2 separate regions of the Homo sapiens genome follow, and region 2 is linked to region 1. The links come from fine-mapping of genetic effects on gene expression. A gene starts in region 1. The other region holds a variant in brackets. All regions are shown on one strand. Distances are from middle to middle. Region 1 holds the start of ESRRB (estrogen related receptor beta). Region 2 holds the start of LOC105370575 (a long non-coding RNA gene).

Evidence for each region. PIP is the estimated chance that this variant, and not a neighbour inherited with it, causes the effect.
Region 2: its variant is fine-mapped to the expression of ESRRB in skeletal muscle (GTEx, PIP 0.95).

The regions. Positions count from the first base shown.
Region 1 is chr14:76,373,540-76,378,913 of GRCh38, reverse strand. It overlaps ESRRB (estrogen related receptor beta), which reads right to left and starts at 2,777. Exons shown (of 7, transcript NM_001379180.1): 1 at 2,463-2,777. The coding sequence starts at 2,512.
Region 2 is chr14:76,308,329-76,313,702 of GRCh38, reverse strand. LOC105370575 (a long non-coding RNA gene) reads left to right here and starts at 3,284. Exons shown (of 4, transcript XR_001750833.3): 1 at 3,284-3,878. It also overlaps a transcript of ESRRB not described here. RefSeq lists an enhancer at 3,268-3,881. The variant G/A (reference allele first, on the strand shown) is at 2,789.

The sequences.
Region 1 (5,374 bases):
TATGTTCCCTGGGAAATGCCGGCACTATAATGAATGGCTTTGTCCTACTATCCTTCTACCAAACCAAAGAATCCAGTCCCCTGCTCTGTTACTTTACTACCCATGGCTCTAAAGCTGTGTCACAAAGCCATGGGGTAGAGGTCAGAAAGATGTCTCCCCAGACACCAGCCCCAGACCTCCACAAGCTCGTCCTTGAAATGATGCCCCTCTGCGCCACAGCACATGCAGACCCTCCCTAGGCGGCACATATATGTATAAGAGGCCAGCTCATCAATGCCTGGGCTGCTGCCCAGTGGGTCCTGGGCTTTGAGAAATGACATCTGACAGGGGTGCTCAATTCCTCGGTGGAGACAGCAGGTATATTTTTGGCTTTTCCTGTGCCCCATGGAGGGACAAGCTAATTCTTTGCAAAAAAAAACCGGAAAGGGTTGGGGATCTAAACCTCTGTCAGGCTTAGTTTATAAATGATTTCTATCTCAAACCTTTCCCAGACCCCCAGGACCTCAGCTCCCTGACTTCCTTCTGCTGCTTCCCTGACATTGCCTTTTTGCCCATATTTCTCCTCAAACTCCAGTCAGGGCTGCCGTCAACTCGATGAATTACCCAGCTGTTAAAGCCTCCATCTCACTCCTTGCTTTCCTGGTAAGCATAATCAAAGAATGTACTTCCTTCATACGAATTTTCATATTTATTGACTATGACTTGAGCCAGGGACAAATACATAAGTATTTCGTGCTCAACTAAAGAAGTCACCTCTGGAGAGAGGGAGCCTTAATAATTTAAATATCCAATATTTGTCATACTTGATCATTTTATGTAAGGAAATGCTCCACAAGCACCAAATACTGTCCACAGCCTCACTAACCTCAGGTGCTCCCACCCCATCCCCACCCCAGCTAGAATCTAACCTTTAAAAGGAATGAAAGCCACTTTTCAAGCTGATGGAAATCGGAATCCATTATTATTAAGGATTCCTCTCCCAGACCAGCGCCTTCTGCCGACATTCTGGTGGCATCTAAAAGGCCCTCTGCCCCAGGGTGGAGTGGGGAAAATCCCCAAACTAGAAGCAGGAACAGTCTGGTCAACAACACAAGCCATGCTGTGGACAGCTGCCCTCTCTCTCAAGCGGGGTGCACCGTGGTGGAGGTGCTCCATGCAGCCAGGAGAGGGGTTAGGTACTTCCTGGGACCCCACATGATCCAGAGTATTTATTTTAGAGATGTAGTCGTGGTTCTTGGGGGGAGGGGGAGAGCGAGTGGTACACAAATGAAAGCACGGTGGAACTGGAGAAACGCTGACTTGGAGAATTTAGTTTGCGTCAGAAAAAAAAGAGGAAGACGAGCACAAAGTTAAGCAGGAAAGCTGTCCGTAAGAACCTAGAGTTTTATGTATTATTATTATTAAGCCTTCCGAGGGACCACTTTGCACGCGCACACAACCTGCCTCCGGGACACCCGCCGGGGGCGCCGTGGGGTGCGCAGCGCCCAAGGGGAGACCCGGGCAGGTACCCGAGCAGGTGGAGCGGCGACCGTGGAGGGTGTCGGGAGGGAAACCGTAGGTGGATAGAGTGGGATCCCCGAGAGCCCGGACATGACACGCGGGTTGACCACCCGCTGCTTAGGCGATCAGTTCACTTTCCCACTCTGCGCTCTTGGCGCGCTGCCCCGGGGCTGGAGACCCGCGGTTTCTGAGAGTCGCTTCTCGCGGCGCCGGCTGCCGCCCGCGCCCACGCCGCTCGGATAACCCCAGGTTCTGGCACCGCGAGCGCAAAGCCGCCTCGGAGCAGGGAAATGGTGCCCTTCTGTTCCGCTGGTCACAGCCTCCCCCAAAGCCGAGAACGAACTTTGCCTACGACGCAGCGCTGGGCCCGCATCCCCCGGGCGCCCTGGATCCGCCGCGCCACGTGCGCACCCTCGGGGCGCCCCACGGAGACCGCGAGGCGAGAGCGGCACTGGCCGCCTGCAGTTTCCAAACCGCCGCGGCACGTTCGATTTTCTCTCTCTTGCCGGGATCATTTTTGGTCCCCAGGATGGAAATAATAAAACAAAGCGCCCGCGGGAAAGGCTTTCTCTGACGGGACAGGACATCCTTGCAACCACATCCCTGCACCTGTTCTGGGCTTCTGCCTCCCTTCTTGCTCCATTCCACAAAAACTCAAATATTTTCTCACCCCGGAGCAAGATCAGAGAGGAGAGAGAAAGGGAGAAAGTGCATGAGAAAGCGCCACTCTTGCCTGAAAGTGTGGATTTGTAAAAGGGGGTGCGGGAAAAAGTTAGAGGAGGGTTTATGCCCTAGAAAGAAACCCAGAAGTGTGCGGCTTTTCCCCTCCTTCGTCCCCCAAGTGCCCCCCCGAAGTCCCTTCCACTTTTACACAAGAATGTGCAGAAAAGGAACTGCGATCCCCAGGACAGAGACTGCCAGACGGGCAGAAGGACAGACAGACCGAGAAGCAGGGCACCTACTGGTTGTGGTAGCCGAGGGGGTCCGGGATGCAGAGTTCGGACACGTCCATCAGTCCCGTTTTAGCATTCCCAGTTGGTAGAGAAAGACGGCGGGGAAATCACGCGGAAGAGCGAGTGAAGGGCACGGGCAAGGTGCGAGCCCGGGCAGGGCACAGTGAGCGCGAGAACGCAGAGTGGGAGGAGGCGGCCGCGGCGGGGGAGAGGGAGGCAGAGAGCCGTGCGCGCACAGCCCAGCTCTCCACTCATCCGCACGCTCCGGAGAGAGCGGGCAGAGGGGATGCGAAGCCGTGGAGGAGGCTGGGGCACAAGAGACTTGGAGCCCACTAACCCTACTGTAGCTTTAAGGCTGGGAGACTGATGTATAGTTTGGCTCCTATTGGCTATCTCTCAGGGGCTGGACTTAAAGTGACAGAATCAAGCTGGGGTGGGGGGAGGGGGTGAGACAGAGAGACTTCATGGAATGAGACGCTCAGCGCGCGAGGTCCCCACCTCCTGAGCAGTAGGAGTACTGGGTGTTAGAGCCCTAAGGCCTGCCTTCTCGCAGTTAAAGGGGGGTGGGGGGGAATGTCCAACCGCCAGGTGGGTCTGGGGTGGGGGGAGATTTATTGCTTACATACCCCCCGGGCCACCCCTATCCCATCTTTTAACTGGCAGGTCTAGCAAACTCACCTCTCAGCCTTTCTGGAATGGATCTGTTTTCCAAATTAAAAATGAGTCACATTTCTCCACCCACGCACCAAAGAGAAGAGGCAGCCTCAAACCCTGCGCTGTGTGCGCAAAAGTGCAAAGGGTCAGGCCAGCAGGTGAGGCACAGCAAGAAGGCAGGAGAGAAACAGATTCCCTTCCCAGTTCTCATCACCTGGGCCAGTCAGTTCTGCACCACTCTCATATGGCTAGATGCAGGGTGCGCATCTATAAAACGTTCTCTCAATGTATGAAGTGATGCTCTAGTCATTGGCAGCTCTCTGAAATGTACCCAGGACACAGACATGAGCAAATAAATTCCTGTCTGCTTAGGAAAATACAATCGTGGTGAAAATGATCAACTTACCCGCCACATCCACTCCAAGGCACAAGTACACACTTTGAAATACACACCTGAATCCCCAGCTACAAACGCACCTGCATCCCCGTCCGCTGCTCCCTCAGTGAACCCGAATATTATGGGATGCCACTGTACCAAAATGAGCTGTAAGTCATGCCCCAGCCCTGCTTCTGGGTTTTTCATCTTTTGAGATGCACCAGCCACAGGGATAATAATCAATTTGATGATTCAAATGAGTGTGGGGAGGGGGGTAGGTATAGAATTATTTAAAAGGGGGGAAAAGCCCTCAGGAGACACCACCACCTTATTCTCCTATATTCTGCAGAAGACAATGAGCAGTAGGGGGGAAGACATAATTTTATCATCAAAATAATGTCTAAATGGAGTGTAACTGCAGGCAATGTTCAAGCACTTCAGGAATAAAGGCAGGGAGGGTTGTGAGAAACCCCAGGAGGGGCCAGCCGCCTGGGCAGGGGCTGGGAGAGTGGGCAGAAGGATCGCAGATGATTTTTGACTTGGATAAATGTGCTCGTGCAGGTTGGGAAACAGAGCTGAGATTTTTCATATGTGCTGAAGTGGAGGAACAAGTGGGATTCTCTGGGCGCAAGGCTCAGGAAGGCATCTCACAGAGAGATGGATGAAGATGTCTCCTCTGTCAGTAGCCCCCCAGCAGCCCCCGATTTTTAAAAATCACATAGGTACTTCATCAGAGACAGAAAGAGGGGTGCAGGGATGCTTCCCTTGAGCCTGGCTTCTATATGACCATCATCTCTCACCAGGACCTCAGTGACTGGTTTTTCGGCATCCTTTCTGCCCTGCTGAAATCCATTCTCCAGGCACACAGCAGCCAGGGAGCGATTTGTAAAATGCACATCCAATGTCCCGTTGTTGCAATTAGGAAAAAGGCCCCAGTCCTTGGCCTCCAAGGAAGGCATCCTATGACAGCTTCCTGCAGGTCCCTCTGTTCCTCTCCACAGCCCCTGCTGCTTTCCCTCTGGGCCCCAGTCTTTACATCTGCCACCTAGAAGGCCCCACCTTCCATATAGTGCCAGAATCTTCTGTGGTTCCTTTGCTTTGGGTAGTTTATCACAGTTTGCAATTGTCTGTGTACTGGCATGAGTGATAATTCCCTCCTCCACCCTTCCCTCACTAGACTGTAAGCTCCATGGGAGTAGGGACCATGTCTCTTTTTGTTCACCAGAGAATCTCTAGCATCTAAAGTTGCCTGATACATAACAGTTGCTTGATGAAGATTTTGCTGAATGAATGGTTAACCTGTAGGAGTTTGGAGTGGGGTGCCACAGCCTGCTGAGTGACAGGCCGCTGCCCAGGAAGAAGGTGAGGCAGTGATGGGTTGTCTGGGGCCCCTTGACTCCTTACTCTGTGTGGGTGCACCGTTTTTAACTGGAAACAAGACACACTTGGTAGAAATAAGGTCCTCTTCATGGTCTGAAAAGAAAGACCACATCACAGCCCAGAGCAATGGATTCAAAGCCACTGGGAGCAAATGAGGAGAAAGTGGGGTCTGCATTGGTTAGAACACTAGGCTAATGCTTGCCTACTATTATTCTCTGCCTCTAAGGTTCAGGCATGAAGGTGAACCAGAGCCTTATCTCTGGGCACTAGCTGATTGTCCTCCAGGCAGGAATGAACTCCTAGAGACCTAGGCCTTCTCAGCCTTCCTCTGCCTGAGCCTCCTCTCACACAGCCCTGGGGCCAAGTTCTTTCTCATTTCCTTTCTGACTCTGCAAGAGGAGAGATGAGGGCCAGCCGCCGGGACACCCTAGTGGCATGATCCAACTTGGCAGGCCCAGGCTCCTCCTGTGATTCTCCAGACAAACTTGCCTAGGTCCCACACTGTGCATGG
Region 2 (5,374 bases), 65 kb after region 1:
GTCTTTGGTTTTAAAATCCTGCCAGCTGCCATTTTAATTGATGGGGTATTTGGAGAGGCCTCAACTATGTAAAATCGTTTGAATTAGGGGAGCACTTTCCAGGTATTTGTGATTCCCTCTTCCTGCACCTGAGCCTGCTGCATTCCAAAGCACCTGCTCATTGCCCCCACTGTCCCCAATTTGGGAGGAGGTCAGGACTGGATTCCTATGTGTTCGAGGGCGGTGGGGGGAACCCATAAAACAACAGTGCATGCACACAGGAAACTGCTCATTTACATTCAGAGAAATAAACAATGACAAGGATGGAATGGTTAGATTTTGCAGACATGAAGTCACAGACAGCCCCGTGACCAATTGCATTTAAGAAATCAGTTTGAAAAAAAAAATGAATTTGATGGGAGCTCAAACCACATAAAATTAATAGTTATTGAAGCAGAAACTAAGTAATCAGAGGCTGTCTCATGCAAATACACTGAAGTTTCCCTGAACTGCATCTCTATAACTAAGCCCGATGGGCCAAACCACACCCTGAACTTGAGGATGAAAGCCAGGCCCTCTATCACACGGTCAGACAAGCCCCTATCTCACCTGAAAGGATCTACACGTAGCCCAGGGAAGAGGCAGTTTTTAGCTAAATGTCCCAACAAAATATTCTTCTGTCTGACCATTAAGGCTCTGAGAACACAGGACTTGCTCAGGAATGCGGGACTCTCTCCCACTGCATTTAATCCTGACACACTGGGCCTGCACAGTGGGCCAGGCAGGCTCCAGTGTGCAGGTTGGGGAGGGGAGGTAGAATTTGTTCTTGTACTAAAAGGCATTTTTAAAAGCCACATTTTTTCTCAAAAGCCATTGAGATCTGAAAGTCCTAGAAGTTCAGCTTTGCCAATAGCAATCTTCTCTGATTTCTGAATGCAATGTCTCAATCACTTCATTCACTTGAGCTTTAATTAACAATAATCCACCAAATCCCACTTCAGCATTATGGTGAAAAAACCTTAGCAGGACATATTTACCAAAATAGAGGCCCTCATAATAGGAAGAATAATAATGCTATATGTATAAGACACTTTAACTCCTAGTTGGCGTTTGTCCCCCTCTGGAGTTCTTAGACTTCACCGTCTATACTAGATCTTAAATAGTGACATTTACCCCCTTGTACGCCATACTCCTTGTTCTGAATTTCTCCACTACTGAATGCGGTCTTACTGGCTGAACATGGGACGTTTGCCTTCTAATTTCTCATTGCTTCCTGATCCCCACTCTCCCGTCCAAAATAATGAATGAATGGATTAAAGATATTAATAACCCTAAACAAAATACAGCTGAAAACATGGAACCAGAAAAAGGAAAGTTAAAGTTTCAGAACAGTCAAAATAAAAATGATATCAAATTGCTTCTCTAAACATACGTGTGTATATCCATATTTATTTAACTTTCATCGAGTTAGATGAAACTAACTGGTTTCATGCTGGTAAAACTATTTTTGTTTGTAATCAATCAAAAATAATACAGGCATATCTGCTTTGTTTAATGCTTTTAAATTGTTGGAAAGATTGTTTCTTTGTAGGATATTGTTCTCCCAAACAAATCAAGGAGTCCTCAGTCATATAGCATATGGTATCCATTGGATAAATAGAAACTCATGGTTAAAAAAAAAAAAAGGTACATTTAAAAAGTTGTACTTAAGTATAAATTAGGCATCATTACTTTTTTTTTTTTTTTTTTCAAAATGTAGGGCTACTTTTCCTTTGTAAATTCTATAAAGCAAATCTTCCCAAGTACAGGATTTCGGGTGAATACTATTCAATATCCAGAAACTAAAGTCCCAAACGTTGCACGGGAAGCTCGTGGCAGGTAAGCCCCGTGGACACAGGACTGTGGCCGGGAAGGCCCCATCTAGAGCCGCCCGAGGTGCACTCAGAGCCGGCACACTATTCGAATTGTCTGAAACAAGCACAGCTTTGACAAGCCTCACGATATTAAGTTTCTTCCTTTGCGAAGGATGCAGAGCAAAGCAGTCAACAGCCCTCCCTCCACACCTGGCTTTGGCCTGGGACTCTTCCTCCCAGTCCCCAGCCAAGTTCCCTTTCAGGATTAAGAAAATACACCAAATGAGGGAGCCAATGACAGCCTGTAAGGCAGGACAAATCCTCAGCTCTCATCGTGACTTCTCAAAGCAAACTTGCTCCGCGGAGGGGAGAGGGAAAATCATTTACTTTAAGGTGCTATAGAAAACTGGTCATCGGGACTGTGGGGAGTCTCCCTGAACCTGGAAGCTCCCAGGTTGAAACCAAAACTTCCAGGAGCTCCCATCATTACCTGTCCTGTGGGCACTGGGTCTTCTTGGGTAACCTTCCCCAGCTTGCCCTACACCGGAGCTGCCAGCAAATAAAAGTTTTCACGCTGGGCGACATCGCTACCCTGCTGAGCTGCATGTAAACTTTCCCTTGCCCTTCTGATGTACTTACTTTTTTCTCAGTGAAAACAAACAAAAATCAAAGGGAACTCACTGCTTCCAAATGAGTTTGTGTCACCGTCCCACCTAGCCATCCAGAGACCCTCTGACCTTCCTGTGACAGTCTAAGAAAGGCAACGTTTTCCTCTCGGCCACACAGGGATGCTTTAGAGTGCGGAAAACCAGGATGAAAGAACAGGCATGGGGAGATATTTTTATCCATTGAGAGAGAGAGAGAGAGAGAGAGAGAGAGAGAGAGAGAGAGAAAGGGGACAGAAAAGGACCCGCAGAGTCTGGGGAGGAGAAAGGGAGAAGTTGGGTTACTCACAT[G/A]CTTGGGGCTGGCGTGGAGGACGAGGACTGGGCTGGGGTGGAATGTGCGGCCCCTCAGGTGCTTTCAGTTGCTGATAACTCGTTGCTCCGCTCCTCCGGTACCAGCTGACAGTCCCCTGTCTGTGTCTCTTTGTGACTAAGGACACAGTACTCCCAACCTATAAATAGATCCCGACTCCGTGATTGATATAACAGGCAGCTGACAAAAAAAAAAAAAAAAAAAAAAAAGTCTCACAACCATAACCAGGTCTTAAACAAAACAGCAAAAAGCTCTAGACTTCCAACTCCACCCAGCCCCATGCAGACTCCACAGCCACTGATGGACGCAGGAAAGTGTGGAAGAAAAATACACCATGAAGGGGAGGAGGAACTGGGGGAGGGCAAGTGAAAAGGGGGGATGTGTAAGACAATGACTTCTCTAGTGGTGTGCGGCCGTCACTTGGGGTCACAGGGGAGCTGGTGACTGATGGTCGGCAGAAAGCAAGGGGAGGAGCCAGGGCAGGAGGTCCTGACCTGGAGAAGGAGAGCCGCCCCCCTCCGGATCCTGAGCCCGTGGCCCTGTCAGGGCCCGAGTCAAAGTCCTGACTTGGGAGCATTCGTCAGCTCAAGTGCTTTCCACGAAAGTTTCCATTCCTCCTGCCAAATTAGGAGGCAGGGAGGGAATTCAGCTTTCCCAGCTCAGGGGCCAGGCAGGCTTCTTGGGGGCCATGCAGAAGGCTCCTGGAGGGTGAGAGAGGAAGTGCAGTTGCCTGGTGAGGCCAGGTCTTTGAAGAGGCCAAGAGATGGCGTTCCCAACAGAAGAACGGCCTGAAGTTGAAAGGCCCTGGGGGTGTTAATGTCTCTGCTTTCTCCAGAAAGATTTAGGACGTCAAGTCGTCTGAAAAGATTTCCTTTTTGGAGAACAAGCCCCGCTCTTTGGGGTACCGGAGGGTCTCTAAGAAGCACTGCCTGTCCCAGTTTCTACAAAGTTGGGGCCGCCTCTCTGGGATAGGCCAGTCCAGCTCTGAAAGCTGAGCCAAGGGGCTGTTTCTGGAAGTTGGAAGAATCATGGTGAAACGGCACAAGTATGGGCTGTTCAACAATTAACCAGGTGAGCATGCATTACCCCAGGGGGCTTCCCATCTGCCATCTGGAGACCCACTTGCTTTGACTACACAGGGTCACCTGTCTTGATTTTCTGGATTTCTTGTGCATGCTAAATGAGGCAGAATTTCAGGTGAGTTTCCCCTTCAAGAGGGGTCATAGGATGAACCCCTTGCTGGTATGGATAAGGGACAGGTACTTCATAATCCCTAAAACTTCCTGATCCCCAATTTTTAAAAGAAATGAAGTTGAACCTCCTCTTCATGTTAGATCTAATCCTTTACTCTCCAGGTTATCAGAAACTATGAGGATGGGGTGGTATCTAAGCTGTTGAAGTCAAAAACCTATTAAACGTGTAGGGCCTCCAATCTTTCCACCAGTAGCCTGCCATTGCAATATGAGCTCCAAGAAGGTAAAGACTATGTGTTTGTCTCATTCATCATCACATCCCCATAATACCTGATCTGTAGCAAGACCCTCCTGAGTATGGATTGATTGACTGACTAATTGAATGAAAGAGTGATACTTAAGATACTGTCATTTGAGCCACTCCTTTGGACTAAGTAAGATACTCTCTAGAAATGTCTGTATCATAAGAGTGTCCCTAGGAAGGCCCAGAACTGGGAGTGAGACTTCAGGCAGATATAGTCAAACTGCTGTATTTTCACTCGCAGTTTTATCTGAGAACCACTGCCCTTCTGAGTACCAGGCCAGTGATGCCAGTGGTCAGCCACCAGGCACTCCTGTCTACTCAGGCCTGGCCACACACAGGGTTCCCTGCAAGTTTAGTTGCTGGAAAAGCAGATAACCCTGCAGAGACAGGGCTCTAGAGAGACTCCCATTCTGATGACTGGGGCTATAGCCACTTACACGCACATTCACCACCAGGCTCCTTCCCAGGGAAAAACCTTTCTCTTCTGATGCAAACTGAGGACTTCCCTCCATGATTTTCTTTCTCCTCCAACTCTTACCGAGCCCTCGCTGATCTCTGGCAGACATCCTGCAGCCCCTCCTAGGGCTTCCACAGCCCCCTAGCACAGCACCCTGTCTGTAGGAAGGGGTCAGTGTTTGGGTTGAACCCAGCCACCCCTCTCCCTAGGAAGCCCCTGTGGCACCTTTGTTTTGGCTTTTTATCTCAAGGTCGACCTCTGTATCATCTCACAGTCTGGTTCTCAACTCTGCCAACTGAACCAAGCCTTGGTGTCTGCCCCCTTGAAGCTGGCCTGGGGGCAGCAGGGGTCTGCTGGGACCAGCTGATAACCAGCGGCATTTCTCTCTGCTCACAGGGGCTCTCTCGAATGGCAGGTCATCATCTTAGGAGACCCCAGGCTTTTGCTTGCAGGAGACTCATCATGGCCTCACTTTCTCATCATAAAACCTCTCCAGCTTCAAGGGCCAGGCCTGCTAGTCCACTCGGAGCAGATGCACATCCGGACACACACCTCTGAGCCTGTCAGATGGGGCTGTTAAGCACAGGCTCTGGATCGGAACTCCCTGGGTTGG